7 linked regions of the Homo sapiens genome follow. The protein of the gene in region 6 purifies or fractionates together with the protein of the main gene of each other region. This does not show direct contact. Each region holds a gene or a part of one and is shown on either strand. Other genes may lie near its edges.

What was found.
Region 1: the proteins of LDLRAD1 (region 6) and MYO9A purify together in Homo sapiens (affinity purification with mass spectrometry; one large-scale study listed by BioGRID and IntAct). This does not show direct contact.
Region 2: the proteins of LDLRAD1 (region 6) and ASPHD2 purify together in Homo sapiens (co-immunoprecipitation; 2 studies listed by BioGRID and IntAct, with this or other methods). This does not show direct contact.
Region 3: the proteins of LDLRAD1 (region 6) and HSDL1 purify together in Homo sapiens (co-immunoprecipitation; 2 studies listed by BioGRID and IntAct, with this or other methods). This does not show direct contact.
Region 4: the proteins of LDLRAD1 (region 6) and ALG11 purify together in Homo sapiens (co-immunoprecipitation; 2 studies listed by BioGRID and IntAct, with this or other methods). This does not show direct contact.
Region 5: the proteins of LDLRAD1 (region 6) and ATP13A1 purify together in Homo sapiens (co-immunoprecipitation; 2 studies listed by BioGRID and IntAct, with this or other methods). This does not show direct contact.
Region 7: the proteins of LDLRAD1 (region 6) and TMEM39B purify together in Homo sapiens (co-immunoprecipitation; 2 studies listed by BioGRID and IntAct, with this or other methods). This does not show direct contact.

What each region holds. Positions count from the first base shown.
Region 1 is NC_000015.10:71,901,284-71,905,625, reverse strand, and holds part of MYO9A (unconventional myosin-IXa), read left to right. Parts: intron 1-619; coding exon 620-700; intron 701-1,586; coding exon 1,587-1,697; intron 1,698-2,562; coding exon 2,563-2,685; intron 2,686-4,285; coding exon 4,286-4,342. UniProt on the Homo sapiens protein: Myosins are actin-based motor molecules with ATPase activity. Unconventional myosins serve in intracellular movements. Regulates Rho by stimulating it's GTPase activity in neurons.
Region 2 is NC_000022.11:26,442,121-26,446,090, reverse strand, and holds the end of ASPHD2 (aspartate beta-hydroxylase domain-containing protein 2), read right to left. Parts: intron 3,633-3,970; coding exon 3,519-3,632; intron 2,995-3,518; coding exon 2,885-2,994; 3' UTR 1,410-2,884; coding exon of another isoform or gene 1,397-1,409; 3' UTR 1,076-1,396; downstream 1-1,075. UniProt on the Homo sapiens protein: May function as 2-oxoglutarate-dependent dioxygenase.
Region 3 is NC_000016.10:84,127,651-84,131,992, reverse strand, and holds part of HSDL1 (inactive hydroxysteroid dehydrogenase-like protein 1), read left to right. Parts: intron 1-665; 5' UTR 666-671; coding exon 672-891; intron 892-1,561; coding exon 1,562-2,007; intron 2,008-2,217; coding exon 2,218-2,445; intron 2,446-4,342.
Region 4 is NC_000013.11:52,022,025-52,026,366, forward strand, and holds part of ALG11 (GDP-Man:Man(3)GlcNAc(2)-PP-Dol alpha-1,2-mannosyltransferase), read left to right. Parts: intron 1-1,981; coding exon 1,982-2,913; intron 2,914-4,342. UniProt on the Homo sapiens protein: GDP-Man:Man(3)GlcNAc(2)-PP-Dol alpha-1,2-mannosyltransferase that operates in the biosynthetic pathway of dolichol-linked oligosaccharides, the glycan precursors employed in protein asparagine (N)-glycosylation.
Region 5 is NC_000019.10:19,656,851-19,661,192, reverse strand, and holds part of ATP13A1 (endoplasmic reticulum transmembrane helix translocase), read left to right. Parts: intron 1-1,205; coding exon 1,206-1,295; intron 1,296-1,401; coding exon 1,402-1,592; intron 1,593-3,784; coding exon 3,785-3,857; intron 3,858-4,043; coding exon 4,044-4,199; intron 4,200-4,276; coding exon 4,277-4,342. UniProt on the Homo sapiens protein: Endoplasmic reticulum translocase required to remove mitochondrial transmembrane proteins mistargeted to the endoplasmic reticulum.
Region 6 is NC_000001.11:54,015,387-54,019,475, forward strand, and holds the start of LDLRAD1 (low-density lipoprotein receptor class A domain-containing protein 1), read right to left. Parts: upstream 2,801-4,089; 5' UTR 2,791-2,800; coding exon of another isoform or gene 2,727-2,790; coding exon 2,706-2,726; intron 2,042-2,705; coding exon 1,990-2,041; intron 1-1,989.
Region 7 is NC_000001.11:32,096,549-32,100,602, reverse strand, and holds part of TMEM39B (transmembrane protein 39B), read right to left. Parts: intron 313-4,054; exon of another isoform or gene 162-312; coding exon 41-161; intron 1-40. UniProt on the Homo sapiens protein: May protect the cells against DNA damage caused by exposure to the cold-warming stress and facilitates tissue damage repair during the recovery phase.

The sequences.
Region 1 (4,342 bases), on a different chromosome or scaffold from region 6:
TTAGTAGAGATGGGGTTTCACCATGTTGGCCAGGCTGGTCTCAAACTTCTGACCTCAGGTGATCCTGCCCTCCTTGGCCCTCCAAAATGCTGGGATTATAGGCGTGAGCCACCATGCCTGGGCTGAGCAAATCAAAAAGTTGATAAATTTCTAGCCACTAATCAGGAAGAAAGAGAGAATGTGCAAATTACCATTATCAGGAATAAAAAAAGGGATATCATTACATACTTTGTAGACATTTAAAGTAAAGCAAGGGCTTACTACCTTACTGGATACCCTCCTGAATCATTTTAAAAGTTGTAGGATACATGAGTTTGAATAAAATTGTTTGATGAAATGTGAAGAAAAGTGAAAAAAATTCTATATTTGATTGTTCTGAAAACATCTGCAATATTTACTATTTCCAGGCTATCTGCTTTAATATTAAACTACCATCTTTATCCTTAATTATCCATAATTTAACCAGTATGAGAATATACACAATGTGCTTTTCAAAAACCTCTTTCTATGTGTACCTCTACTTTTTGAATGTTTTGCCAGCATGTTGATTATAGTTATAAATTATTTGTTAATAGTTTGGAATGGAAGAGTATGATAATTATATTGCTTTCTGTTGCAGGCATCATTAAGCAAGCTAATGGAAACACTTGGTCAAGCAGAACCATATTTTGTAAAATGCATTCGCTCTAATGCTGAAAAGGTAAAAATGTCCTATAAATGAGAGCACATATCTCAGCTTACTTCAAACTGAGCTTTAAATACTTTTAAGCAGAATAAGTGGAGGGGAAGCACTAACTATAATATTTATAAGGAAAATAGTATGTTATAAACACTTTAAATGGATTTTTCCACACTTCCCTGCCTGTAAGGTGTTTATTTGGATTTGATTTAGCATCACCCAGAATTTGAGAAGCAAATACCTCTTGAAGTCCTGTCAGAAAAGAATTTTCTTTTTTGTTTTTGTTTTTGTTTTGAGGCAGAGTCTCACTGTGTCACCTAGGCTGGAGTGCAGTGGCATGATCTCAGCTCACTGTAATCTCCGCCTCCTGGTTTCAAGCAGTTCTCCTGCCTCAGCCTCCTGAGTAGCTGGGACTACAGGTGTGCACCACCACGCCCGGCTAATTTTTGTATTTTTAGTAGAGACAAGGATTTGCCATGTTGGCCAGGCTGGTCTTGAACTCCTGACCTCAGGTGATCAGCCCACCTTGGCCTCCCAAAGTGCTAGGATTATAGGCGTGAGCCACTACACCCAGTTGTAGGTTATCTTGTTACAGATTTTGTAGTGATTGGACTATGTGGCCTCTGTGGGTGACTACATTCTTTTTGAGCCTTTAAGGTCCTCTCTCTTCACAACCAGAGAAGCCTGGAAGCTTGGTTTCTCTCTTTTCCCTAGGGTTGGGCAGTCAGAACTTTTCTGAAGCTACCAGCTGAGAGGTGAGCTTGCCTTAATATACTTAGTTACTGTATATGTTAACCAGACAACCTCCAGTCAATCTCTAGATACTCAACAGTTAGTCATGCTTATAAACAGATAATTAATTTGGAGATCTACTGTTCTGGGTTAATCTTTTTTCCATTTGCTTTAGCTGCCCTTAAGGTTCAGTGATGTCTTGGTACTTAGACAGCTTCGATACACCGGGATGCTGGAAACAGTTCGAATTCGCCAATCAGGATACAGCTCCAAATATTCTTTCCAGGTTCTGTTTTTATAGTGATATTTACATATTTAGACACATCAAGTAAATGATTCCCACATATCTTGCTTATTATTTCTTTGGGGCTTACTTATTTTCCTTAATTCTTCCTTTCCATTTCACGTTTTGTATACGGAATTGAAAAGGGATAGACAGTATTTACTTTGATTGAATGGCAGCAATCTCATTAAGCTTATTGTAATAGAATCCAGTACTTGGCTATTCTCATTTGCTCGGAATGTTTGCTAATACTAAATTTACTCCTGATATAACAATTCTTTGCACTGACCTCTCCAGTAACTGAAATAGTTCAATGAGAATTATCTAGTGAAAAGATTCTATTTGGTTTTCCCTAAAGTTTTCTCAGCAGGATTTTCTTTCATAGTAAGCTGCCAGCAAGGCTCACAGCTACTCGTATCAGCAATTGCTGCTATGGGTATGGAAACTATATTGAAGCTGTTCAGCAACTGAGCAAGTCTTTGCTGTTACTGGGACGGAAAGCCTCATTCTCAGTGATACCCTGTCCCCATCCTGCCACGTTTGCTTTTTTTTTCCTGATAGAAATTTTAGGGTCTTGTTAAATACCCTTTTCTTTGGTCTTTTATAAAGCTTTCTCAAAAGGGATAATTAGCCTCTGCCTTTTTTTTCTCTCATTCCCTTTTGATGTCATGATATGTAGAACCCAATATCTTTCTCCACCTCCTATGTTTTCCGAATTAACCTTTTATCATATCTTAAATTAACATGCACGTCTTGGTTTCACCCTGTTTAAAAGAAAGAGAAAAGATTAATAGAATGATAATTAGTTTAAGGTCTTGTTTACATACACTGTTTTCTGATTTTACAATATTTTTAAATTATTTTTCAGGATTTTGTGAGCCACTTCCATGTACTTCTTCCCCGAAATATTATTCCATCCAAATTTAACATTCAGGATTTCTTCAGGAAAATAAATCTTAATCCAGATAATTATCAAGTTGGAAAAACCATGGTAAATATAATCTGTATAGCTCTGGTCAAAATTGAGTGCATTTATTTAAAAAATAATAATTTTTGCCTATGAGATTGTTTATTAAAAAGATAGTGAATCAGATATCAGAAGACAATTGGTTAGGCCCAGGTTTTTATTTAATTATGTAGTCAATATTAATCACAGAGCTCTGGCCAGTGCTCTAGTTCTGACTATAATTTTAACTGCCTAAAAATCATCTCTCCATAGATACTCTACTGTAATCTCCAAGCCAGCTTGCCCAAGGTGACCATATCCAGATTCATCTGTTCTTAAATTTATCAAATACTTTCTTTCTCTGTCACCCTTTTTCCAGTTTCTCAGTCTAGAAACCATAATTGTCTTTGGCATACCGTTCACTTTAATCCTTTCACAAAGTTTTAGGGATTTTTTTTCCTTTTACAAAGAGATTCTTACATCGCTTTCTGTTTCTCCATTACTACTGCTTCCATTTTATTTTTATTCCTTATCTCTTCTCATCTACATTGCTTATACAGTGAACAGCTTACTTATCTGATTCTAGTATATTTGTCATTCCATTTAATTTATTCTACTCATAATATTAAAATTATTATCTTAATATACTTAGTTCTTTATGTCTGCCTCCTGCTTGATAATAACCTCCTGATAACCTCCTCATTAAATCCAAACATCTTTCTCTTTTTTGAGAACCTTCATATTGTGGCTTCACATTACTTAATATCTTTTTTATGGAGATTAATTGTCCCGTTGTCTCCTGTGCATGCCTTTATTATTATTTTCAACTCTCTGTGTTACTCAGGTGGGATCTTTTGTCTCTGGCCCTTATTAGTTTACCATCTTCCTCTTCGGGTATATAATATCTACCTGCTCTCAAATGAGAGGTATAATTCCTGTTTCTAAAGGGATATGTCTCCTTCACCTTTGCAGCCTCACAAACCCTAAACATTAGTGGAATGAAGGAGTAAATAAAATAAACTTATTAATAACTTTGGACAGTGAGAAGCTTTTAATGCACGCTGGATTTCAAAAAGACTGTTATCATTGGTTTATTCATTATATGATTCAAGCTTCAAGATCTATGGTTTTCAACTTTTTTCCCCATCCCAACACGCTTGAAAAATATGACTTATTACCAGTAATACATTTACTCATAGCAGTGGTTTCCCCAATGGACTAATGTATCATAATCTCTGGCACTGGAATTTTGATATTCTTGCTCACCTTGTCATTTTTCCCTCCCTTCCTCCCTTCCTTACCTTCCTTTTTTTGTCTTTTTTTTTTTTGGAGACCAGGTCTCTCTATTTTGCCGTAGAACTGGAACTCCTGGGCTTCAGCAAACTTCCTGTTTCAGCCTTCTCAGTAGTTAGGAGTATAGGCATGTAGCACCACACCCAGCTCACCTTCCGTATTCTACTATCTCCATTTCAATTTGAGAATGACTACTTTGGATAAATCTGTAGGAATATTTATCAGTACTTCATTTACATGCCTGCCACTGTGTTTGTTCTTCTCTAAAAGCTTATCACAGAAAGGATGATTCATGAAATAAATTTCTCATTTCTTCTTAAGCTGCATTCCTCATCTTTCTTCCTTTTGGTAGGTCTTTCTAAAGGAGCAGGAACGACAGCACTTACAAGATCTGCTTCACCAAGAGGTG
Region 2 (3,970 bases), on a different chromosome or scaffold from region 6:
CAATGCCTAGCTGGCAATGCACACTTGAGGAGGGTGAGAAACATCGCGATCCCAGGTGAGTGGCGCTCTTCCCTTCCGCTTGTTGTGGCAGCCCAGCCCGGACAGCTGGCTGGAACCTCGCTTGCAGGTGGAAACATGCGGCAGCCCGGCTGCTTCTAGGGCTCCTGGCTGGGAGACCCCCCTGTCTCCCTCTCTTCTAAAGGGAAAAACATGAAAAACACAGCTACTGAGGGACATGTTTCTTCCTCTGTGATTAGACACAGGCAATTGAAAGTAGCCACTGGCTTCTCTGGCCACACCCACTGCTGTCCCGATGTGTTTTCCCATCTCTTCCATTTGGCGGCCTTCCTCTTCACCTGTTTCTCTACTCAGCTGTGGCAGAAAGGGAAACAAGGTTGTTGAGTGCCCTTCATGTGCCAGATACTGCACATACCCACAGAGGAGAAACTGAGGCTATGAGAGGCTAAGGGACTTGCCCAAGGTCCCGAGGGTGCAAACTCCTGGCACGGAGTCCTAAATCCTCAGCTTTTCTGAAGCCAGGGTCCTTGTTCTTCTTTGCCCAGTTAGACATCTATTGCTCCTTAACATATCCTAGATGTGCTCTTGTCCCCACCCCACTAGTCCCATTGCTTTGGGACATTTTGCTTCATTCACTATCCACGATCAATTCTAGTGACCCGCCTGTCTCTGTGACATCACTCAAAACACAAGAGCCTCAAAGTCACTTGCCCCCTTCTGCCTAGCAAGTCTTTTTTTTTGGACAGGGTCTTGTTCTGTCGTCTTGGCTGGAGTGCACTGGCGCGACCTAGGCTCACTGCAGCCCCCGCCTCCCAGGTTCAAGTGATCCTCCCACCTCAGCCTCTCAAATAGCTGGGACTACAGGTGTGCACCACCACACTCAGCTAGTTTGTTTGTTTGGTAGAGACAACGCCTCACTATATTACTCAGGCTGGTCTCAAACTCCTTGGCTCAAGCAATCCTCCCCGCTCAGCTTCCCAAAGTGCTAGGATTACAGGCGTGAGCCACCGAGCCTGGCCTAAGTCTTTCTTTACAACAGATGACCTCACCACTTCACTCTGGTTTTCAGCAAGATCCTTTATTTATCTTCTGTTCCCCAGACATGTCACATGAATGCAGGTAGCTAGGTACCTGCGCGGGCTGTTGGTTTTGTAAACGCAGAGCAGAGCAGTCACGATGTGTAGAAATCATGCACCTCAGTGATTCTTTAACAAGATAATGAGTAAAAAGACTTCAGGTATGTTTGAAATGTCTGCCTTTTCCTGCATTCTCATCACTGACAAATATCTGTGTAGACATTTTACTCAAATGTAGACGTGCTCTTTGCACACTTGCTAGTACCTGCCTGGTGCATTTCAACTGTGTTTTCTTCCAACAGTTGTACCTCTTAGAAGCTGCTGTTTTCCATTTGGATCTAAACACTGGACCTGCACCTGCGACCAGCTGTATATTCCAAACCACTCCTCGGCTTTATAAATCTGACACTGCTCATAATACATTATTCAGAAAAGGCATCTCTAGTGTGGCTGGCCGGCTACGCTTTCACACATCAGCTAACACAGGCTATTTCTAGAGTGAGTGCCTCAAACTGGTCTCCTGGGACCTTTTCCTTCGGGAAGAGATCCACATGTTCTTCACAGGAGACCAGAAAACCAGCACAACGGCCACGGGTCCTCTGGGCATGTAGGTCTTCTCTGTCTCCTCACTAGCACACACTGGCTTGGGTCATTGTCACGCAGTGCACACCTTTGTGCCATGACAAAGACACAGGGCCAACTCTTCCACTATCTCCAAGTCTAGTGTTTGAACATTTATGTACAGACAAATAAATGAAAAAAAAAAAAACATAGGCAACAGAACTCCAAAGCAAAACAGAAACTTTGGTCAGATCTATTATTCCAGTTTTGCCAGAGAAAGGCTTTCCCCAAATGTCGCTGGGTGAGCGCGGTCCTATCCCCCTACAGCTCCTATCAGCCAACCTGGTGGCCTTAACGTTCATCACTGTGGACTCAAAACACCTAAAACTGGGAATTTTCCAGGCCCAGTTTGGCAGTAGGGCTTCTGTAGGCAGTGAGGTAAGCGGATCACACGTTCCGTGGCTGATCTGTGTGAGCCGCAGCTTGGTGCTGGGGGACACCAGCTTCAGCTTTGCAGGAAAGCCATGTTTAAAGAGTAGCCTCCAGTCCTACTGGCCCAATGCTTTTGCCATCAGGGACCTGACAAGGTTTAGAATGAGGTGAGCGATGGTGACAGTATCCCTGGGCCTGGACACTGTGTGCCACCCTGACTGTGTCTGGCAGCCCCTCCACCTGGCTACTGAAGCCAGTCAGGTGTGGGGGCTGCAGACTGTCCCCCTGCCGTCAGGTGGCTGAAGGGTCCCCAGTGTGCCAGCATCAGAGGCCAAGTTCTCTAGCTCTCTGGTTTGCAGTTTTTAGTTTTTTTTTTTTTTTTTTAAGATGACCACAAGAAGTTTTACATTATTATATTCAGACAAATAACCATTTAGTTACTCTATTTCAGAGCACTGAAAAAAACAAGTAGCAACAGAAGACAGACTTACAAGGGCACTAAGTCTCTGGTCACTCAAGGACCAATCAAAGGAATGCGCTGTTAGGCCAGAAAGGAGTCTCTGAAGCAAATGATTGGAAGGAAAAAAAAAAAATCTAAGGAAATACAAGCCGAAAAGTTTCCATTTACAATAACCAAGGGAAAGAGGGACCCGACATGATATAAAATCCCAAATAAGAGCTTTCCGCTGAGGCAGGTTTCTGAGCATGGAAACAACACCGGTAGGGACTGGACCGGACCACAGTCTGCCCAGGCCCCGCCTCGGCCCTTCTCGCCGACTCCAGCATGGGAAATACTCTCATCGTCCCGGAGCAAAGATGAAATCAAGAGCCTGCCGTTCGGCCGCTGCGACGTTTGGATGCCACAAATCCACCATGAAAACCACCCGTGGGCCATCCTCTGCTGAACCTGGGGGGGAAGGAGGGGTGAGAGGACAGGTTCAAACCACCCTGGAGTCAGGACCCAGGATCCAGGCAGGGCTGGACCCTACGTGCTCAGCTTCGGGGCAGGGACCCCATCCTGTCCCTCGGCTCGGATCGGACCACCTCCTCTCTCACTGAGAGCATAAACCTGGCTTCATGGGCTTCTGAGCAGGGTGGACAAAAGGAAATGGGGAGATGGAGGGATCTTTAAGTGGGAATTTTTACGGCAGTGAAACTATTCTGTATGATACTGTCATGGTAGGTCCGTGTCATTATCCATTTGGCGAAACCCACAGAATGGATGGACAACACCAAGAGTGAACCTTAATGTCAACCATGAACTTTAGGTAATAATAACGCATCAATACTGTGTGTGTATATGTGTTATGGGGTGATATGAAGGGGCCTCCTTGGTACTTTCTGCCTGATTTTTCTGGAAACCTAAAACTTCTCTAAAAAAATAAAAGTCTATTCATTGAAAAAAAGGAAGTGGGAAAGGCAGCCACTCACCTTCATGGAACGCAGCATGCAGGAAAGAGTCATCAAAGAGAAGGCAGCGCCCTTCTGCCCAGCACTGGGGCTCTCCCCCCACCACCAGCTCACAGCCATTTGGAGTTTTCAGACCTTGTAGGAAAACCAGAGAAAGGAGAGTGAAGGCAGGCAAGATTCAGGGAAGGCCAGGAGATAGGGGGTGATTTGCCTTACTGAGAGTTTTTGACTTCTAAAGCACCTGACCTGCCTCACACCTCTGGAGCCCGTGCTATGGTCTGAAGGCTTGTGGGCTTGTGTCCCTGCAAATTCCCATGTTGAAACCTGACCCCAAGGTGATGGTGTTAGGAGGTGGGGCCTTTGGAAAGTGATCAGATCATGAAGGTGGGGTCCTAATGGGAGCAGCATCCTTATAAAACAGGCCCAAGGGAGCTTCTTTACCTCCTTTTGCATCTTTTTTTCTTTTCCCTTTT
Region 3 (4,342 bases), on a different chromosome or scaffold from region 6:
AATTGGCTGAATCTCCAGGCATGGTGGCTCACACCTGTAATCCCAGCACTTTGGGAGGCCAAGGGTGGCGGATCACCTGAGGTCAGGAGTTTGAGACCATCCTGGCTAACGCGGTGAAACCCTGTCTCTACTAAAAATACAAAAAATTAGCCGGGCGAGGTGGCGGGCGCCTGTAGTCCCAGCTACTCCGGAGGCTGAGGCAGGAGAATGGCGTGAACCCCAGGGGGCGGAGCCTGCAGTGAGCCGAGATTGCGCCACTGCACTCCAGCCTGGGCGACAGCGAGACTCCGTCTCAAAAAAAAAAAAAAAAATTAGCCGGGCGTGGTGGCATGTGCCTGTAGTCCCAGCTACTTGGGAGGCTGAGGCAGGAGAATCGCTTGAACCCGGGAGGTGGAGGTTGCAGTGAGCCAAAATCGCACCACTGCACTCCAGCCTGGGCGACAGGGTGAGACTCTGTCTGATAGATAGATAGATAGATAGATAGATAGATAGATAGATAGATAGATAGACTGAAACTGTGAGCCACGTACATTTGAAAAGTTAGTGTTATTTGAACGTACAATTGACAAGATCTGATGCCCTCAGCTGGATGTCTTCACTCAGACTGTGTATGTTCCTTTAATTTATTAATCAAAGAGGCTCTCTCTCTTTCCCTCTCCCTGCAGGTTGCCATGGCTGCTGTTGACAGTTTCTACCTCTTGTACAGGGAAATCGCCAGGTCTTGCAATTGCTATATGGAAGCTCTAGCTTTGGTTGGAGCCTGGTATACGGCCAGAAAAAGCATCACTGTCATCTGTGACTTTTACAGCCTGATCAGGCTGCATTTTATCCCCCGCCTGGGGAGCAGAGCAGACTTGATCAAGCAGTATGGAAGATGGGCCGTTGTCAGCGGTAACCTACTTTATAATCAAAATAATCTTTTCTGTGAAGTCGGATGCATTATTCAAGGAGCTATTGAATTTAATGTGGTGTTTTTATGGGAACATGCTGATAAAAAAATAAAACTTATGGCTCCTGCCGTGATTATGTTCACATTTCATTTTCTTACTGCTCTCATCTTAGGAAGAACTGGCCTCATGATTGGTATCCTTCCTATTCTGCTCTCTCCTGTTCCCAGTCCTCCTCCAGACCCACTTCCTACTATGTGCTTTTCCTTTTTGTTCTCTGTTTTAAAATTGTCTTGAAAGTGTTGCCACTTTCAGAAATGCTTCACCTATTTTGAATTTCATTTTAATTTATGAAGATTTCCCAGAAAAGCACCTCCTGCCACTCATTCAAGCCAGATAGTAGTTTGAAAACAAATTCCTACTGTGTCTCCTAACCAATATGGTGAATGTAAAATAACTCCCTGTCCGTGTGTCAGGATGTCTGGGAGAGTGTATAGCATGCGCCCTTCACATTCCTCATTCAGCAACAGTGTCCTTGACTTGTAGATACTAGAACCGACTTGATTTCTAGTGTGAATTTTTCTCTGACTAAACCTGACAGGGGGTACTTTGGGTCCATTTTAAGGGTCACACCGTGAAATACACATGCTCACTTTTCCTGACTTGCATCCTAGGTGCAACAGATGGGATTGGAAAAGCCTACGCTGAAGAGTTAGCAAGCCGAGGTCTCAATATAATCCTGATTAGTCGGAACGAGGAGAAGTTGCAGGTTGTTGCTAAAGACATAGCCGACACGTACAAAGTGGAAACTGATATTATAGTTGCGGACTTCAGCAGCGGTCGTGAGATCTACCTTCCAATTCGAGAAGCCCTGAAGGACAAAGACGTTGGCATCTTGGTAAATAACGTGGGTGTGTTTTATCCCTACCCGCAGTATTTCACTCAGCTGTCCGAGGACAAGCTCTGGGACATCATAAATGTGAACATTGCCGCCGCTAGTTTGATGGTCCATGTTGTGTTACCGGGAATGGTGGAGAGAAAGAAAGGTGCCATCGTCACGATCTCTTCTGGCTCCTGCTGCAAACCCACTCCTCAGCTGGCTGCATTTTCTGCTTCTAAGGTCAGATGTTACTTACTGGAAGATGAAATCCTAATGCCACAGAACATTTATTAACAGTTGTTTGGTCTGATTTGTTGAACTCTTTGTCAGCAACTCACATATGCTTATCCTGTATTTTTTCCTGAATTGATAATAAGCAAGTCTTTTTTTCTCCTGAATTTTCAAGTTCACCCAGAATTAAAAGTCTTTTCCTCCCCTCTGTCTCAACAGGCTTATTTAGACCACTTCAGCAGAGCCTTGCAATATGAATATGCCTCTAAAGGAATCTTTGTACAGAGTCTAATCCCTTTCTATGTAGCCACCAGCATGACAGCACCCAGCAACTTTCTGCACAGGTGCTCGTGGTTGGTGCCTTCGCCAAAAGTCTATGCACATCATGCTGTTTCTACTCTTGGGATTTCCAAAAGGACCACAGGATATTGGTCCCATTCTATTCAGGTAGGAGTGTGCTTCAGGTCTCATAATTAGATTAATGCATCATGAACCTATCTCAGTGATACAGAGAAATCTGATTAAAGCCTAAGATGAGAATTGTAAATTCTGACTCTTAAGCCTGACACTTAATAATTTTGGTTAAGACACTAAATTTTCTTTCTTTTTTTTTTTGAGATGGAGTCTGGCTCTGTCACCCAGGCTGGAGTGCAGTGGTGCGATCTCAGCTCACTGCAAGCTCCGCCTCCCGGGTTCATGCCATTCTCCTGCCTCAGCTTCCCGAGTAGCTGGGACTACAGGCACCTGCCACCACGCCTGGCTAATTTTTGTATTTTTAGTAGAGACGGGGTTTCACCGTGTTAGCCAGGATGGTCTTGATCTCCGGCCTCATGATCTGCCTGCCTCAGCCTCCCAAAGTGCTGAGATTACAGGCGTGAGCCACCGTGCCTGACCAAAGACACTAAATTTTCTTTTGTGAAATTATTACCTTAAGAATTTTCAAAAGTTCAATCTATGTGGCACCTTAAAGTGAAATATACTACTTTGGCTGGGGTGTGGTGGCTCACATCTGTAATCCCAGCACTTTGGGAAGCTGAGGTGGGTGGATCACCTAAGGTCAGGAGTTCGAGACCAACCTGGCCAATATGGTGAAACCCTGTCTGTACTAAAAATACAAAAATTAGCTAGGCTTAGTGGTGTGTGCCTGTAGTCCCAGCTACTTGGGAGGCTGAGGCAGGAGAATCGCTTGAACCCTGGAGGCGGAGGTTGCAGTGAGCCAAGATCACGCTACTGCACTCCAGCCTAGGCGACAGAGCAAGGCTCTGTTTCCAAAAAAAAAAAAAGAAATATGCTGCTGTAAGTGGATGTTAGGACTATAAAAATACTAAGTATTTACATGGGAATTTCAAAGTAAAAGATTCTAGTACTGCTTGAGGGTTACCTCTCAGTGAAAAATATAATCCAAAAAAACCACAAAACCACAAGATAGGGCTATATTTCATGCAACCATTTTATCAAATAATATCTCTGTATAGTCTTAGACTAATTTTTTCAAGAAGCATAGAATTTTTATTTTAAGCTTATTGTTTAGGCATGACAAAGGATTGGTACCTTTTAGTACTGTAGAAAGTAACTTTCTTAGATATTTGAAATTGTGATCGTAAGTATTAATTTGAGAATGCATAATTATCTATTACAATATATTTCAGTTCCTTTATCTGGTGTAGTAAAGAGATGTGCCCTAGTTTAGAATTTTTTTTTTTTTGAGATGGAATTCCGCTCTTGTTGCCCAGGCTGGAGTGTAATGGTGCGATCTTGGCTCACTGCAACCTCCACCTCTCGGGTTCAAGTGATGCTCCTGCCTCAGCCTCCGGAGTAGCTGGGACTACAGGTGCCTGCCACCACGCCCAGCAAATTTTTGTGTTTTTAGTAGAGATGGAGTTTCACCATGTTGGTCAGGCTGGTCTCGAACTCCTGATCTCAGGTGATCCACCCGCCTTGGCCTCCCAAAGTGCTGGGATTTACAAGCGTGAGCTGGCAGGGCGTGGTGGCTCAAGCCTGTAATCCCAGCACTTTGGGAGGCCAAGGCGGGCGGATCACGAGGTCAGGAGATCGAGACCATCCTGGCTAACACCGTGAAACCCCGTCTCTATTAAAAATACAAAAAAATTAGCTAGGCGTGGTGGTGGGCGCCTGTAGTCCCAGCTACTCAGGAGGCTGAGGCAGGAGAATGGCGTGAACCCGGGAGGCAGAGCTTGCAGTGAGCCGAGATCACACCACTGCACTCCAGCCTGGACGACAGAGCAAGACTCCGTCTCACAAAAAAAAAAAAAAAAAATACCAGTGTGAGTCACTGTACCTGGTCCGAATTTTTTTTTTTTTTTAATATTCGGAGTTTTCTTAA
Region 4 (4,342 bases), on a different chromosome or scaffold from region 6:
AGGGGAGGGGACTTAGATGCCACCTCTCAGTGAGAAAAGTATCAAAGAATTTGTGGCCCGTCCGGGCACAGTGGCTCACACCTGTAATCCCAGCACTTCAGGAGGCCAAGTCTGGCAGATCACTTGAGGCCAGGAGTTTGAGACCAGCCTGGTTAACATGGCAAAACCCCTTCTCTACTTAAAAAATACAAAAATTAGCTGGGCATGGTGGCACACATCTGTAATCCCAGCTTCTCAGGAGGCTGAGGCACGAAAATCACTTGAACCCGAGAGGTGGAGGCTACAATAAGCCAAGATCACGCCACTGTACTCCCGCCTGGGCGACAGACAGAGCGAGACCCTGTCTTAAAAAAAGAAAGAAAAAACAAATGGAATTTGTGGGCATTTTTAGGCTACCAGAGATCACAATCTTTTTTCACATTTTAAAAGGCTCATTCTTGCTGCTGGGTAAAGAGTGACTGGGAAGGGGCCAGAGAGGAGCAGTTAGATTGTCATCCTTTAGGCTTCCCCAGCATCCTGTGGGTGTCTTTATCAATGCGTAGCACACAGTTTTGCAGTTATTTGTTTTGCATGTCTGTTTTCTCCACTGGACTGAACTTCTGAAGATAAAGACTCTCTCTCATCTCCATACCCCCAAAACCTGGCATCTCATTACTAGATGCTTAATAAATTTGTTTTTTTTTTTTTTTTTCAGATGGAGTTTCATTGTTGTTGCCCAGGCTGGAGTGCAGTGGTGCGATCTTGGCTCACCACAACCTCCGCCTACTGGGTTCAAGCAATTCTCCTGCCTCAGCCTCCCAAGTAGCTGGGATTACAGGCATGTGCCACCACACCACACATATTGGTCAGGCTGGTCTTGAACTCCTGACCTCAGGTGATCCACCCGCCTCGGCCTCCCAAAGTGCTGGGATTACAGGCGTGAGCCACTGCACCCAGCCAATAAATGTTTTATGACTCAAAGAATAATTATAAACAGAGGGAGACCAAAGTATTACAAGTCATTAAAGAATATACTTTTAGATATTTTCATACTAATTATATCTAATTGTGATATAGGCACAAGATCTAGCTTTTAAAGACTTGCATTTTTCAGATAAAAACCCTGAGTATTGCTTTAGTATTGTGATCCTATCTGAAGACAGGTTTGTTGAATCTTAATTCTTGTTTATAGTATTTTATTACCATTTTTTTTACTAAGAACACTGTCAAAACTTTTTAGTATTTCTTTAGACCATCTCATTCATAAATCAACACTTACTGTTGATGCCTGTTCTGTGTGAAACCCTCAGTGGAGGAAATAGCAAAGAACTAGAAGTCATGGTCTCATTTGAAGGACTGTACTTCTAATTCAATAAAAAATGTAGAAAACATCATTTTTAGTATGACCAACATGGAGAAACCCTGACTCTACTAAAAATACAAAATTAGCCGGGCGTGGTGGTGCATGTCTGTAATTCCAGCTACTCGGGAGGCTGAGGCGGGAGAAGCACTTGAACCCGGGAGGCAGAGATTGTCAGCCAAGATGGCGCCATTGCACTCCAGCCTGGGCAACAAGAGTGAAACTGTCTCCAAAAAAAAAAAAAAAATCAAATCTTCTTTATAACTGTAAGAAAATAGTTATCTACAACTTTTTGCTTGATTTTAACCTAATATATTCTTTTTTTTGTTTTTGTTTTTGTTTTTTTGAGACGGAGTTTCACACTTGTTGCCCAGGCAGGAGTGCAGTGATGCAGTCTCGGCTCTCAGTCTCTCAGGGTAGGTAGCAGGCTTTTTTTTTTTTTTTTTTTTGAGATGGAGTCTCACTCTGTCACCCAGGCTGGAGTTCGGTGGCATGATCACGGCTCACTGCAACCTCCGCCTCCTGGGTTCAAGCGATTCTCCTGCCTCAGCCTCCTGAGTAGCTGGGATTACAGGTGCGTGCCACCGTGTCTGGCTAATTTTTGTAACTTAATATATTCTTAACCATTACATTCTATTTTAGGTATCCTGAAGCAGTTTATGTTGTTTATACCGGCGATGTTAATGTCAACGGTCAACAGATACTAGAAGGTGCTTTCAGAAGATTTAACATCAGATTAATTCACCCAGTGCAGTTTGTTTTTTTAAGGAAACGCTATCTTGTGGAAGATTCACTGTATCCTCACTTCACACTGCTGGGCCAAAGTCTAGGATCCATTTTTCTTGGCTGGGAAGCTCTAATGCAGTGTGTTCCTGATGTTTACATTGATTCAATGGGATACGCTTTTACGCTTCCTCTGTTTAAGTATATAGGGGGTTGCCAAGTTGGAAGCTATGTTCATTATCCTACTATCAGCACCGACATGCTCTCTGTAGTGAAGAATCAAAATATTGGATTTAATAATGCAGCCTTCATTACCAGGAATCCTTTTCTCAGCAAAGTAAAGCTCATCTACTACTATTTATTTGCTTTTATTTATGGACTTGTTGGTTCTTGCAGTGATGTAGTCATGGTCAATTCTTCTTGGACACTAAACCATATTCTCTCACTATGGAAAGTTGGGAATTGCACTAACATTGTTTATCCACCTTGTGATGTGCAGACATTTCTGGACATTCCCTTACATGAGAAAAAGATGACCCCAGGACATTTGCTGGTTTCTGTTGGCCAGTTTAGGCCGGAAAAGAATCATCCATTGCAGATCAGAGCCTTTGCTAAATTGCTGAATAAGAAGATGGTTGAGTCACCTCCTTCGCTTAAACTTGTCCTCATTGGAGGTTGTCGTAACAAAGATGATGAACTTAGGGTAAACCAACTGAGAAGGCTGTCTGAGGATTTAGGAGTTCAAGAATATGTGGAATTTAAAATAAACATTCCATTTGATGAATTAAAGAATTATTTGTCTGAAGCAACAATTGGTCTGCATACCATGTGGAACGAGCATTTTGGGATTGGTGAGTTTGGCCTTTAAACAACTTGTTTGGTGCCATGAGATACACATTTTAAGTTCTTTTGATAAAATGATAATACTCTGGAAATCTGCATCATGCCCTAATTCTCTTGCCCTCATCCACCAAATGTGCTTTCCTCACTTGAGACCTTGTAAGATAGTAGTTAATAATAGCAGCTAGTATTTATTGACCAATTCCTGTGTGTGGGCCACTGTGTTGAGATTTTTACATGTATTATCTAATTTAAGCCTTTCTAAACCCGTTTGATAGGTGTTATTGTTATTCCCATTTTATAAATAAAGAAACTCAGGCACAGGAAGGTTTAGAAATTGCTCGAGTTCAGTTACACAGTAAGTGGTAGAGCCCGGATTCTAACCCAGATAGCCCCTGCTCTTAACAGCAACATTTTCTCTCTCCATCTAACCCCACTACATACTTACTGGTACAGATTCCTGGGCCCTACCCTAATCCTACAGAATGGCCAAATGAGAATCTCTGGACAAGGCCCAGGTAGATGTATTTTGATAATGCTGCTTAAGTGATTCTGTTATGCATCAAAAGTTGAGAACCACTGTTTGCATAGGGGCTTCTCACAGTAACTCTTTTAGTCTTTTATTGATTCTACCCTCACCATTGGAATGGCTCTCCTCTTTGTGCCAGATTGCATCATAAGTCTTCAACTTAAATCTCCTTGCACTTTAGCCTTTCTTGTTTATTCTGGCACAAACTGCTATCTCTATTCTGACCTGTTAAGCACACATTTTGCTATAAAATCAAGTACTGCTTTGTGTTTAATTTGGGTCCACATATATTTCTCAAGCGCTTTGTGCCTCACACTGTTAGTTGTTAGGGGAAATGAGGATAACATAAAAGTGACATTTCCTAAACTAAGACTTCAATTTCTCTTATACTCTTTTTACTCCTAGTTAGTAGTGTAGTGCTAGGCCCAGACATTAAGCAAGAACTTGTTGACCCAACCTGTTGCATGGGATCTGACCTCCTGTGCTTCCTTCCATAGAAACTTACTAAGCATTCACTCTGCTGAGCGCTTGGGTGGATGCTAGGGATGTGGTGGAGACAGGAGCTGCTTGGCCTGTCAGAGGCTTCCCACCCTCTGGTGGTACCAACAGGCTACACAGGCAAGTGCCGTGCCGTGCTGTGCCGTGTGCCAGGTGCTATGCTAAGGAAGTGCAGGGTGATGTGAAAGCGCCAAAGAGAAACCTAACACAGACTTGTGCGGGCAGGGAACAGTTGCCCAAGGAAATGATGTGACACTTGAGCAGGACCCGAACAATAGAGGTTAGCCAGGAGAGAGGGGAGAGTCTCCAGCAGAGGGAACAGCACTGTGACAGGAGTGACAACAGATGCATCAATAGGAACATTCAGCAGGAAGACAACAGAGAGGTGATATAGGCCAGGTTAAGCCAGTGGA
Region 5 (4,342 bases), on a different chromosome or scaffold from region 6:
GAGCCCTGGGCATTAGGTGCTGTCTGTGCACCCAGCTTCCCAGCTTTTTTTGTTGTTGTTTTTGTTTTTGTTTTGTTTTTTGGGGTTTTTTTGTTTGTTTGTTTGTTTGTTTTTGAGATGGAGTCTGGCTCTGTTGCCCAGGCTGGAGTGCAGTGGCACAATCTCGGCTCACTGCAACCTCCGCCTCCCAGGTTCAAGTGATTGTTCTGCCTCAGCCTCCCGAGTAGCTGAGACTACAGGTGCCTGCCACTATGCCCAGCTAATTTTTATATTTTTAGTAGAGACGGGGTTTCACCATATTGGCCAGGCTGGTCTCAAACTCCTGACCTCGTGATCCCCCCTGCCTCAGCCTCCCAAAGTGCTGGGATTACAGGTGTGAGCCACTGCACCCAGCCTTTTTATTTTGAGACAGAGTCCTGCTCTGTCGCCCAGGCTGGAGTGCAGTGGTGCAATCTCGGCTCACTGCAAGCTCTGCCTCCTGGGTGCACGCCATTCTCCTGCCTCAGCCTCCCAAGTAGCTGGGACTACAGATGCCTGCCACCACGCCCAGCTAATTTTTTGTGTTTTTAGTAGAGATGGGGTTTCACCGTGTTAGCCAGGATGGTCTCAATCTCCTGACGTCGTGATCTGCCCACCTCGGCCTCCCAAAGTGCTGGGATTACAGGTGCGAGCCACTGTGCCTGGCTGGTTTTTTGTTTTTTTTTTTTTAATTGAGATAGGATCTCACTCTGCCACCCAGGCTGGAGTGCAGTGTTGCAATCTCAGTTCACTGCAACCTCCGCCTCCCAGTTCAAGGGATTCTCCTGCCTCAGCCTCCTAAGTAGCTGGTATTACAGGTGTGCACCACCGTGTCCGGCTCATTTGTGTATTTTTAGTTGAGACAGGGTTTCGCCACATTGGCGAGGCTGATCTCAAACTCCTGATCTCAAGTGATCCGCCCACCTTGGCCTCCCAAAGTGCTGGGATTATGGGTGTGAGTCACCGTGCCCAGCCTTGTGCTCCCAGCTTTAAGTGTGGCACCAGAGGCACAGCAAGATGGTCTCGTTTGTCCTGATGACAGACGAGGGAGTGACAGAGGCAGCACCAGAGCCCAGTGGCATTTCAGAATATACCCATAGAGCTGCTGCACCCAAAACCTCCCGGGGGGGTCTTGGAACTGTAGGTTGAGAAGAGCTAAGCCACAATGCTTTCTTTGTCTCTGTCAGGAGTACGACCCCAGCAAAGCGACCTTTGTGAAGGTGGTGCCAACCCCCAACAATGGCTCCACGGAGCTCGTGGCCCTGCACCGCAATGAGGTAGGGACTGCCTGCTGGGCTCCTGGAGGAGGGGCTTGAGTAGGATTCCCAGGCGCTGACACCCCAAGGTCAGGGGCCTCTGTGGCAAACACACCTTCTACCGCAGGGCGAAGACGGGCTTGAGGTGCTGTCCTTCGAATTCCAGAAGATCAAGTATTCCTACGATGCCCTGGAGAAGAAGCAGTTTCTCCCCGTGGCCTTTCCTGTGGGAAACGCCTTCTCATACTATCAGAGCAACAGAGGCTTCCAGGAAGACTCAGAGATCCGAGCAGCTGAGAAGAAATTTGGGAGCAACAAGTGAGTCCTTGATTTGCCTGTAGCACCTTTGCCTTTCTGTCCTGCTCCCCTCCTGATTCAGGGTGCCTAGGAAGCGGGACAGAGGCATCTGCCCTTTTATTTATTTATTTACTATTATTTTATTTTTATTTTATTTTTTATTTTTGAGACTGAGTCTCGCTCTGTCACCCAGGCTGGAGTGCAGTGACGCGATCTCAGCTCACCCCAACCTCCGCCTCCCCGGTTCAAGTGATTCTCCTGCCTCAACCTGCCAAGCAGCTGGGAATACAGGCTCCCCCCACCACGCCTGGCTAATTTTTGTATTTTTAGTAGAGATGGGGGTTTCACCATGTTGGCCAGGCTGGTCTTGAACTCCTGACCTCAGGTGATCCTCCCATGTTGGCCTCCCAAAGTGCTGGGATTACAGGCGTGAGCCACTGCACCCGGCCAAATCTGCCCTTTTAGCCAAATGTCCCAGGTGACTGTGATGCCGCTTGAGCAACATGCTCTAAGTCCAGTCTCCCCTGAACTTGCCTGCTGGCAGGAACCCCAGAGGGTCTGCAGCTGGAAGCCCGTGCCCTGGGGTGTGAGACCTTGAGTGTAAGGTTCTTCACAGGAGTCTAGCCTGTGGCCCCTCCTCAGCAACAGCTTTATTTTAAATTCTTTTAAAATGTTTATTTGTGTAGAGATGGGGTCTCGCCGTGTTGCCCAGGCTTGTCTCAAACTCCTGGCCTCAAGCAGTCCTCCTAAATCAACATCCCAAAGTGCTGGGATTACAGGCATGAGTCACTGCACCCAACCTAAACATTTCAGTCCTCACTGTTTCGAGTCTACGCATCTCAGCGCTTCAGAATGGTGATGGAAGACCGTGACCATGTCTGCCCTTTTGTACTGAGTACAATGGCCAATGTGCGGTGCACACCCTCTCCCTTCATCTTCACCAAAACTGCAAATGCTGACACGTGGCTGGGAGCCGGAGAACTGGGCTCCAAACCCCATCATGGCCTTGTTACGATGGTCCTCAACCCAGAAACCCACAGAACACCTAGGGAGCTCTTTCCTGACTTAATCACTGTTCAGAGATTACAAATATGTTGACTACAACTATCAATCTAATACAAGGATTTATAAGAAACATTTAGCAACTTCCCCTACCCCAAGGTTGGCCAGTCACATTAATGGCCTGTGGCAACTACGTTCCCTTTCATGCTGTTCTTACTCAACGCAAAGGTACCCAGCAAGATACAAGGGAAGGGCTTATTGTTTGATAGCAGTGGGGTTGCTCTTTGGTTTCCTCTTCTCACATCCCATACATAAGACGTCCATGCAGTTAAAGGGCAGAGCGAGAATGACCCTCGTTGACATGACTGGTGCCCTGATCAGATTGGACTATGGCACAGAGTACTGCAGAACACACCCTTAGGCCCAAGTCCTTGCATTCTCGAGCCTTTTTTTTTTTTTTTTTTTTTTTTGGAGACAGGGTCTTACTCTGTTACCCAGGCTGGAGTGCAGTGGTGTGATCATGGCTCACTGTAGCCTTGAACTCCTGGGCTCAAGCATTCATCCTGCCTCAGCCTCCCAAATAGCTGGGACCACAGGCACACACCACCACCCCCAGCTAATTTTTAAATTTTTTGTAAATAGAAGGTCTTGCTGTGTTGCCCAGGCTAGTCTCTGACTCCTGGGCTCAAGCACTCCTCCTGCCTCGGCCTCCCAAAGTGCTTGGGATTACAGGCGTGAACCACCCTACTCGACCCATTCTGGGGCTTTAATTCAGGAATCATAGAAAATCTCAGCTTTGGTGGGGCTGGGTCTCAGTGTCTTCTGCTGTCTGTAGCTTCAGGGCCTCCATCTTTCAATCAGAGGTTCCTTCTCTACTTGCTGTGTCACTCGACCAGATGACGGGCTCTCGTCTGACACCAGCCCCAGGCTGCCAGGAAGAGCATATTGCAGATTAAGGAGCTTCATCTGTTTTATGCAGAGCCGAGGGCTGTGGGCGGGCAGCATGTCTACCCCAGGCTCAGCCAGGATGAGGGAGAGCCACTGCCAAATGGATCCTCCTATCTGGAAGCTCGCCAGGGCTCCCGACGCCCACATATGGCTCTTGGTTTCTTGAGAGCGGCCTGCCATGCTCAGGTTGGAGGGGTCAGGGTGGAGACTCCATACCCCAGAGGCCTTGCCCTGGGAACAGGATGGGGCCTGGTCTCTTGCAGGGCCGAGATGGTGGTGCCTGACTTCTCGGAGCTTTTCAAGGAGAGAGCCACAGCCCCCTTCTTTGTATTTCAGGTAAAGCAGCAGCTCTGGCCCATCTCCCCATTTCCTCCCTTGGGGCTTTCCTAACCGGATCAAGCCTGCCCACCACTTCTAAACCTGGAAGCCTCTCCCCACCCTCACATATCAGATCCGGTGGGTGGAAGGGGCTCATGGGAACAGGGCGGGTAGGGCAAGGACAGACAGGCTGGTATCCCACAGGTGTTCTGTGTGGGGCTCTGGTGCCTGGATGAGTACTGGTACTACAGCGTCTTTACGCTATCCATGCTGGTGGCGTTCGAGGCCTCGCTGGTGCAGCAGCAGATGCGGAACATGTCGGAGATCCGGAAGATGGGCAACAAGCCCCACATGATCCAGGTGTGGCTGCCAGGGAGACCCAGGTTGGGGGTGCAGCACAGGTGCGGCTTCTGTGCTGACACCCATGCCCCGCCCAGGTCTACCGAAGCCGCAAGTGGAGGCCCATTGCCAGTGATGAGATCGTACCAGGGGACATCGTCTCC
Region 6 (4,089 bases):
CTCCCCTGCTTACAAAATAATAAAAGAAGGCTTTACTGAGGACCTCCTGGGTGCCCTGCTGTGCAGCTTGCCCTGGTCCTTGCCCTCTGCAGCTTGTTATTGCACTTAGAAGGCAAGGCATGGACATGCCTGAAGGGGTGTGGGAGCTACTGACGTGCCCAGGCCACAGGTACCTCAGAGAAAGGGGCAGGAGCAGGTGTGATTCATCCCTGTGACCCCAGGGCCCAGCCCAGAGCCAGGCACGTGGTGGGGGCTTTTGTTTTTTTTGTTTTTTTTGTTTTTTTTTTGAGGCGGAGTCTTGCTCTATTGCCCAGGCTGAAGTGCAGTTGCATGATCTCAACTCACTGCAACCTCTGCCTTCTGGGTTCAAGCGATTCTCCTGCCTCAGCCTCCCGAGTAGCTGGGATGACAGGCGCCCGCCACCATGCCTGGCTAATTTTTGTATTTTTAGTAGAGACGGGTTTCACCATGTTGGCCAGGCTGGTCTTGAACTCCTGACCTCAGGTGATCCGCCCACCTTGGCCTCCCGAAGTGCTGGGATTACAGGTGTGAGCCACCACACCGGCCTGGGGCTTTGTGAACACTCTGTGAATATGCCGACCTGGGGGTCCAGGAGGCAAGAGAAGGCCCCCAGTATGGGTCAGTCCAGGTTATTTCCAATCCATTCACATTTCTGATGCAGTGTCCTCAGAAGCAGAATGGGATTTCCACAGGCAGGTAAGGGGAGGGTGCAAAGAGAGGGCATTCCAGGCAGAGGGCGTGGCAGGAGTAAAGGCCCAGTGGTTGCAGGTGGGGGAGCACAAATGGCCTGGGGTGGTGGGACTCCAAGATGGATGTGTATTGGGAGGGGAGACAATAGCAGGAGAGGCAGCATAAATCTAAAACCTGTCATCCCTACAGCCCTAGTTGGTGGCTCCTTGGCCATCAGCAAACAGGGTAAACTCAGGTAACCAGGGAGGCAGCGTGACTCTGGGCAGGGAGAGGTGTCCTGATCAGCCAAGCAGCTCCTCAAATATTTGTGCAGCACAGACCATGCACAAGGTGGGGCCATGGGAGAACCCGCAGAACCAAGGCTCCTGCCCAGGTGAAGCTGTTGCACTTCAAAGCCAGAAAGCCCTTAGGTGCCAGTCCTCTCCCTGTACCGATGAGGAAAAGGAGGTGATTCTTTCCACAACCCCGCCCATCATGAGTCAGGACTTAGAAATAAACAAACACCAGCTCGGAGCAACAAAAGCCCTGGGGCTTTGTAACCAGAGAGACCTCAGTTCACATTTGAACCCTGGCCCTCCAACCTCCCTGCTGTGTGACCTTGGCCTGGTTACTCAACCTCTCTTAGTTTCAGCTGTCTCATCTGTTATTGCCCCATAACAGGGCCCCTGTCTCAGAGCTGTCCTGAGGATTAAAGAGATCATGCAGTGCCAGGCACCTAACTGGGGATGGATTCTTTATAGCTGGTATTTTAATCTACCTCTCTGAGTGTGTTTCGTCATTGATCAAATGTGGGCCAAGCCAGGGCATATGCAAAGCTCAGTACATGTGTGTTTCTTCCTTCTTCTATTTTCAGAAGGGTAAAGAGGACTGTCCTGGTCACACCATGGGCCAGTGGCACATAGTAGGGCTAAATAAATGTGTCACTTTATCCATCAGAGTTAAAGAGAATTGCCCAGGTCACCCACTGAGTCAAGAATTTGACGCTGGTGCTCTTTTCTCTGTGTTACAGGTGGGCACTGTATGCAGTTTGGTGCCTGTGAGGTAGGCAGCACACAGTAGGTGCTTAATGAATGCATGTGCATGGAGAGAATGAATAACCCTATTAAGCAAGTGACTGTCAGCATGGCTGGCCAGGAAGCTGGGAGCAGACAACGTTAACATGGAGGCAGAGGTCTGAGGGACAGTGGGAGCCTTGAACCCTCCTCATGTCTCTATCGCCAACTGCCAGCTTCAAGGGAGCCCCACAGGGCACTGGCCCCAGGCCCTCCAGTTCTTTACCTTCCCCTCCAGGGTGGGCTTTGGATTCAGCAGCAGTGTAGCCATTCTCTCCCTGCCCAAGAGAACAGAGTGAGGGGTGGGCTTAGGTGAGGTGAGCTCCAGCCTCAGGGAGGCAGACAACAGGGTTTTCAGAGGGGTCACTGAGAGAGTCTTAGGTAGAACCACGGGTCCGTCACACCCCAGCATCTCACGCCCCAGATGCATCATGCCCGCTTCATATGTCCACACCTTTGCCTGCACTGTGCCCTCTGCCTGGAAAGCCTTTTTCTCTGCTGTCCACCTGATAAATATTCATCCTTCAAACCGGCTTGGGCAGCGACTCCTGGGTGAGGCTTTCCCTGATACCCTCCTCCCCAGTAAAACTGGCCGCTCTTCCCTCCTGTCCACCTGGCTCCTCTGTTTCCATACCAGCACTTGCCACCTGGACTGTATTGCTGGGTCATTGGTAGGGTCCCCTACACCCTGGGAGTGAGCCCCGGGGCAGGACGGGGGCTGATTTTCCTCCGTGTCTCCCATGTATGCCCACTCTCTACTGCCCACTCCTCATCCCAAGGTTTGCTCTCCCAAGATCAGGAGCCTGGTCAGGGCGGCTCTTACCTGGGGACAGCTCTTACTTGGAGACAACTCTTACCTGGGGACAGCTCTCACCTGGGGACAGCTCTCACTTGGGGACAGCTCTTACTTGGAGACAACTCTCACCTGGGGACAGCTCTCACCTGGGGGAAGACCTTGTTCATGTCTTCGGTTTCCTGCTGCCCGACTGGGGCTGTGTGCAGAGAGCTCAGCACGGGTTCCCTGCATTGTCACCAAGGCCAACCTGGAGGAGGGACAAGCAGGAGGCCTTGCCCGGGCCACACCCTCCCTGTGGGCAGGCCCCTGTCAGCTGCCTTCCAAGCAGAGGCAAAGGCAGGAGGGCCCCTCTCCGGCCAGGCTATTCCCTCATCTGCCATCTGACAGCAACATTGCGAGGCTGGAATCCTCATCCCTATTCCACAGATGAAGAGCCAGAGGTTCAGAGAGGGAGAAACTGCCCCAAGTCTCACAGTGCATGGGAGGAGTGAAACCCAGAAACTTTTCAGAAAGTGCATTTTCCTCCACATCAGAGATGGAACCGGAGGAGCTCAGGTTCCAGGGGTATGAAGATGCAGGCAGAAACTCCCAGAATTGACGTTTCGGTGGCTAGAAAGTAGGGGTCATTTTCTCATTGATGTTCTTCTGTTCAACTACATAGGTGACCTAGATTGAAAGAATATGCATTTTCCACTAAAATTATAAAGCAAATATAATTTTAAATTGTTTCATTTAGAAACGTGGCAATGTGAATTTTTACTGCCCCTGAGGTGGTGCTGAGGTAGGGAAGAGGCGGGGGGCTGGTTGCTTGCGTGAACAACCCCTTCTATGTCCCCAGTGAGTGGGTTTCCCTAGCAGCCTGTCCCACTGCTGAGTAAACCAAGGCCCTGGAATCTTGAGGGACAGGTCCAAGGACCCGGACCAAGGGAGGAGAGGTGTCTACCTCCAGAAATGAGCTCAGGAGTTCTTGCACCTGCCTCTGATGCCCATAGATTTTCCAACCTGCAATCAGCCTTTTCTTTTGCATTGGGAAATAAAATGATGAATCCACGTGGGTGCAAGTAGGAGGCACAGACACAGGGGCAGCCCTTGGGAGGCAGCAAGTAACATTGTGAAGAGCTGAGCCCTAGGCCGGGAGAACAGGACTCTCATTAGGGCCCTACCACTGGCTCTGACGGGTGACTCACTCCCCTTCCCTGCGCCTCAGTTCCTTCATCCAGAAAATAAAGATATAAGCTAGATGAAGGGGGTGTTTTAGTTTAAGGTTCCCCAGAATCAGACTCTAAGACAAGATTTGAGGGCAAGTAGAGTTAATTGGGAGTGATCCCAGGAAATGCTGGTCGGGGGGTGAGGGAAATGAGACATGGAAGAGAAGGATCCGATAACAGTCGTGTTATGAAGCAGGTTTCCGCTGTGGGCAAGTGGAATTTAGCCCTGCTGGGGCACTCGGGGAAGCTAGGGGAGAAGATGCCCCTCAGAGTTATCCCACTCAAGGTGAGGGGAACTGGGGTAATAATCTGCCAGCTCCTG
Region 7 (4,054 bases), about 22 Mb from region 6:
TCTCAGGCCCCAACCCTCCTTCCCCGGGGAGGAGACTCACATGGAAGCGGAAGTGGGAGACGTCAGAGGGGATAGCCACGTTGTAGTGGCCTACGGCTTTGTAGACGTTCTTGCTGTGCTTCACCAGCACGCCCTGCGGCCACATGCATTCTTCAGTCCACCTGGGGGCACAGTTCAATGGTGCCCCTTATCCCCAGCTCACCCACAAAAGGGATACCAGAAGAATGGGCAGGAGGGAATCACCAGGGCTCTACTCCCATTTCTATCACTTAGACACGCTGACTTTCCTTTTCTGGGTTTCAGTTGCCTCCTCTGTAAAATGGGGTAAGAATCATGAGGAATTCACTGTACTGTGAGTTAGGTGGTCTAGGGCTGACATTAATTACTAAGAGACTGTTGAGAGAACCCTTCTTCCTCTCTGGGTCCCTTTGCTTCATCTGGTCTCACCTCTTGCCTCCAAGTGGTCCACCACACAGTTGTCTGAGTGGTCTTTGTAAAATACTAAGCTCAGCCTGACCACCCTCTGCTTAAAACTCTTTGTGGGCTTTTTTTTTTGAGAATGAGTTTCGATCTTGTCGCCCAGACTGGAGTGCAGTGGCACAATCTTGGCTTACTGCAACCTCCGCCTCCCAGGTTCAAGCAATTCTCCTGCCTCAGCCTGAAGAGTAGCTGGGATTACAGGCATCTGCCACCATGCCCAGCTAATTTTTGTATTTTTAGTAGAGATGGAGTTTCACCATGTTGGCCAGGCTAGTCTCGAATTCTTGACGTCAGGTGATCTGTCCACCTCAGTCTCTCAAAGTGCTGGGATTACAGGCGTCAGCCACAGCGCCTGGTCCTGCTTAAAACCTTTTGAAGGCTTCCTAGTGCCCTTGGGGTCAAGGCCCCAAGGATTTGACATGGCCTCTGAGGTCTTGTGTGGCTTCCCACAACCCTCACCACACAGCTCATGCTGTTTCTCGTTCCTCCAGCACTCTGTACTGCTTCACGTCTCTCCCTAAGCTGCTCCCTCCAATTGGATTGCCCTTCCCAAAGCCTAATCCTTCTGGTAAGCTCTTCATCATCTTTCAAAACCCAGGTTCCTCCACAAAGCCTTTCTCAAACTCCCTAGAGTTTGACATCCTTTTATTTTTTTAAAAAAACTTTAAGTTCTAGGGTACATGTGTACAACATGCAGGTTTGTTACATATGTATACATGTGCCACATTGGTGTGCTGCACCCATTAACTCGTCATTTACATTAGGTATTTCTCTTAATGTTATCCCTCCCCCACCCCACCCCACCACAGGTCCTGGTGTATGATGTTCCCCACCTTGTGTCCAAGTGTTCTCATTGTTCAATTCCAACCTATGAGTGTTTTTTTTTTTTTGAGACAGAGTCTCACTCTGCCGCCCAGGCTGGAGTGCAGTGGCGCTCGGCTCACTGCAACCTCCACCTCCTGGGTTCAAGTGATTCTCCTGCCTCAGAACTATAGGCACCTGCCACCACGCCCGGCTAATTTTTCTGTATTTTTTGTAGAGACGGGGTTTCGCCATGTTGCCCAGGCTGGTCTCAAACTGCTGACCTCACGTGATCTGCCTGCCTTGGCCTCCCAAAGTGCTAGGATACAGGCAATGAGCCACCGTGCCTGGCCCATTTGGCATCCTTTAACTGTTCCCTGCATCTCCTGCTACTAGTCCACATTCCCCAATGCTGGTCATCTATTTATTTCCCATCTGTATACCTCACTAGGCTGAGAGCCCTTGAGCGGGAGGATCTAATCCATCCCTGTGTCCTCAGAGCATGCCGCAAGGCCTGGCACAGAGAGGCCCTAGTGAGCATGTGAATGAAATGCTAGGACCGGTGAGCTTTCTTTTTTTTTTTGAGACAGAGTCTCGCTCTTTCGCCTAGGCCAGACTGCAGTGGCGCTATCTCTATCTCGGCTCACTGCAAGCTCCGCCTCCTAGGTTCATGCCATTCTCCTGCTTCAGCCTCCTGAGTAGCTGGGACTACAGGCGCCCGCCACTGCGCCCAGCTAATTTTTTTGTATTTTTAGAAGAGACGGGGTTTCACCGTGTTAGCCAGGATGGCCTCGATCTCCTGACCTCGTGATCCGCCCGCCTTGGCCTCCCAAAGTGCTGGGATTACAGGCGTGAGCCACTGCACCTGGCCCAGTGAGCTTTCTTATAATGTCCTGTGAGATCTCCCAGGAATCCCAAGGGCCTGGACCAGAGGACTGCAAGTCACAGCCTGTAAGCAGCCCCCTTCTCAACCCAATGCTCTTGCCTTGCTGACTCACTCATTTAAAAAAAAAATAGTTGGCTGGGCACAGTGGCTCACACTTGTAATTCCAGCACTTTGGGGAGGCCGAGGGTGTGCAGATCACCTGAGGTCAGGAGTTCGAGACCAGCCTGGCCAACATGGTGAAACCCCGTCTCTACTAAAAATACAAAAAAAAATTAGCGGGGCATGGTGACACAGGCCTGTAATCCCAGCTACTCGGGAAGCTGAGGCAGGAGAATCGCTTGAACCCGGAAGGTGGAGGTTGCAGTGAGCCAAGATCGCAGCACTGCACTCCAACCTGGGCAACAAGAGCGAAACCCCGTCTCAAAAAACAAAAAAGAAAAGTTATTGTGCGACTCATAACATGAATGAACCTCACAAACAATATGCTGAATAAAAGAAGTTGGGGGCCGGGCACGGTGGCTCACGCCTGTAATCTCAGCACTTTGAGAGGCTGAGGCGGATGGATCATGAGGTCAGGAGATTGAGACCATGGTGAAACCCTGTCTCTACTAAAAATACAAAAAATTAGCCAGGTGCGGTGGCGGGCATCTGTAGTCCCAGCTACTCAGGAGGCTGACGCAGGAGAATGGTGTGAACCTGGGAGGCGGAGCTTGCAGTGAGCCGAGATCACACCACTGCACTCCAGCCTGGGCGACAGAGCGAGACTCCATCTCAAAAACAAACAAACAAAAAAAAGAAGTTGGGGCCGGGTGCAACAGCTCACGCCTATAATCCCAGTTCCACTTTGGGAGGCTGAGGCAGGCAGATCACGAGGTTGGGAGTTCGTGACCAGCCTGGCCAGCATGGTGAAACCCCATCTCTACTAAAAATACAAAAAATTAGTTGGGCATGGTGGCGCACGCCTGTAATCCCAGCTACTCGGGAGGCTGAGGCAGGAGAACTGCTTGAACCTGGGAGGCGGAAATTGCACTGAGCCAAGATCGCGCCACTGCACTCCAGCCTGGGTGACAGAGTGACACTCTGTAGCAAAAAAAAAAAAAAAGAAGAAGTTGGACACGATTTCATTTATATTAAGTTCTACAACAGGCAAAACTAACCTCTCGTGAAAGAAAACAGAAAGGTAGTTTGTCTTGGGGGAAGGATCACTGGGAAGGGCCATGAGGACATTTTCTGAAGGGCTGGAAATGTTCTATATCTTGAATGAGGGGTGGGTTACATGAGTATATATACCTTTATCAAAACTGAAAGAATTGTACCCTTTAAGATTTGTAGGCCAAGTGCAGTGGCTCATGCCTGTGATCCCAGCACTCTGGGAGGTCGAGGTGGGTGGATCGCTCGAGCCCATAAGCTCTAGACCAGCCTGGGCAACATGGCAAAACCTTGTCTCTACAAAAAAATACAAAAATTAGCTGGATGTGGTGGCATGCGCCTGTAATCCCAGCGACTTGGGAGCTGAGGTGGGAGGATCACCTGAGCCCAGGAGGTTGTGGCTGTAATGAGCTGTGATTGCACCACTGCACTCCAGCCTGGGAGACAGAGTGGGACCTTGTCTCAAAAAAAAAAAAGGATTGCACATTTCACTGTATGGAAATTTTACCTTAAAAAGAAAGGCCTAGGCCAAGTGTAGTGGCTCACTCCTGTAACCCCAGCACTTTGGGAGGCCAGGACGAGTGAATCACCTGAGGTCAGGAGTTTGAGACCAGCCTCGCTAACATGGTGAAACCCCATCTCTACTAAAAACGTAAAAATTAGCCGGGTGTGGTGGTGCACACCTGTAATCCCAGCTACTTGGGAGGCCCGAGGCAGGAGAATCGCTTGAATCCAGGA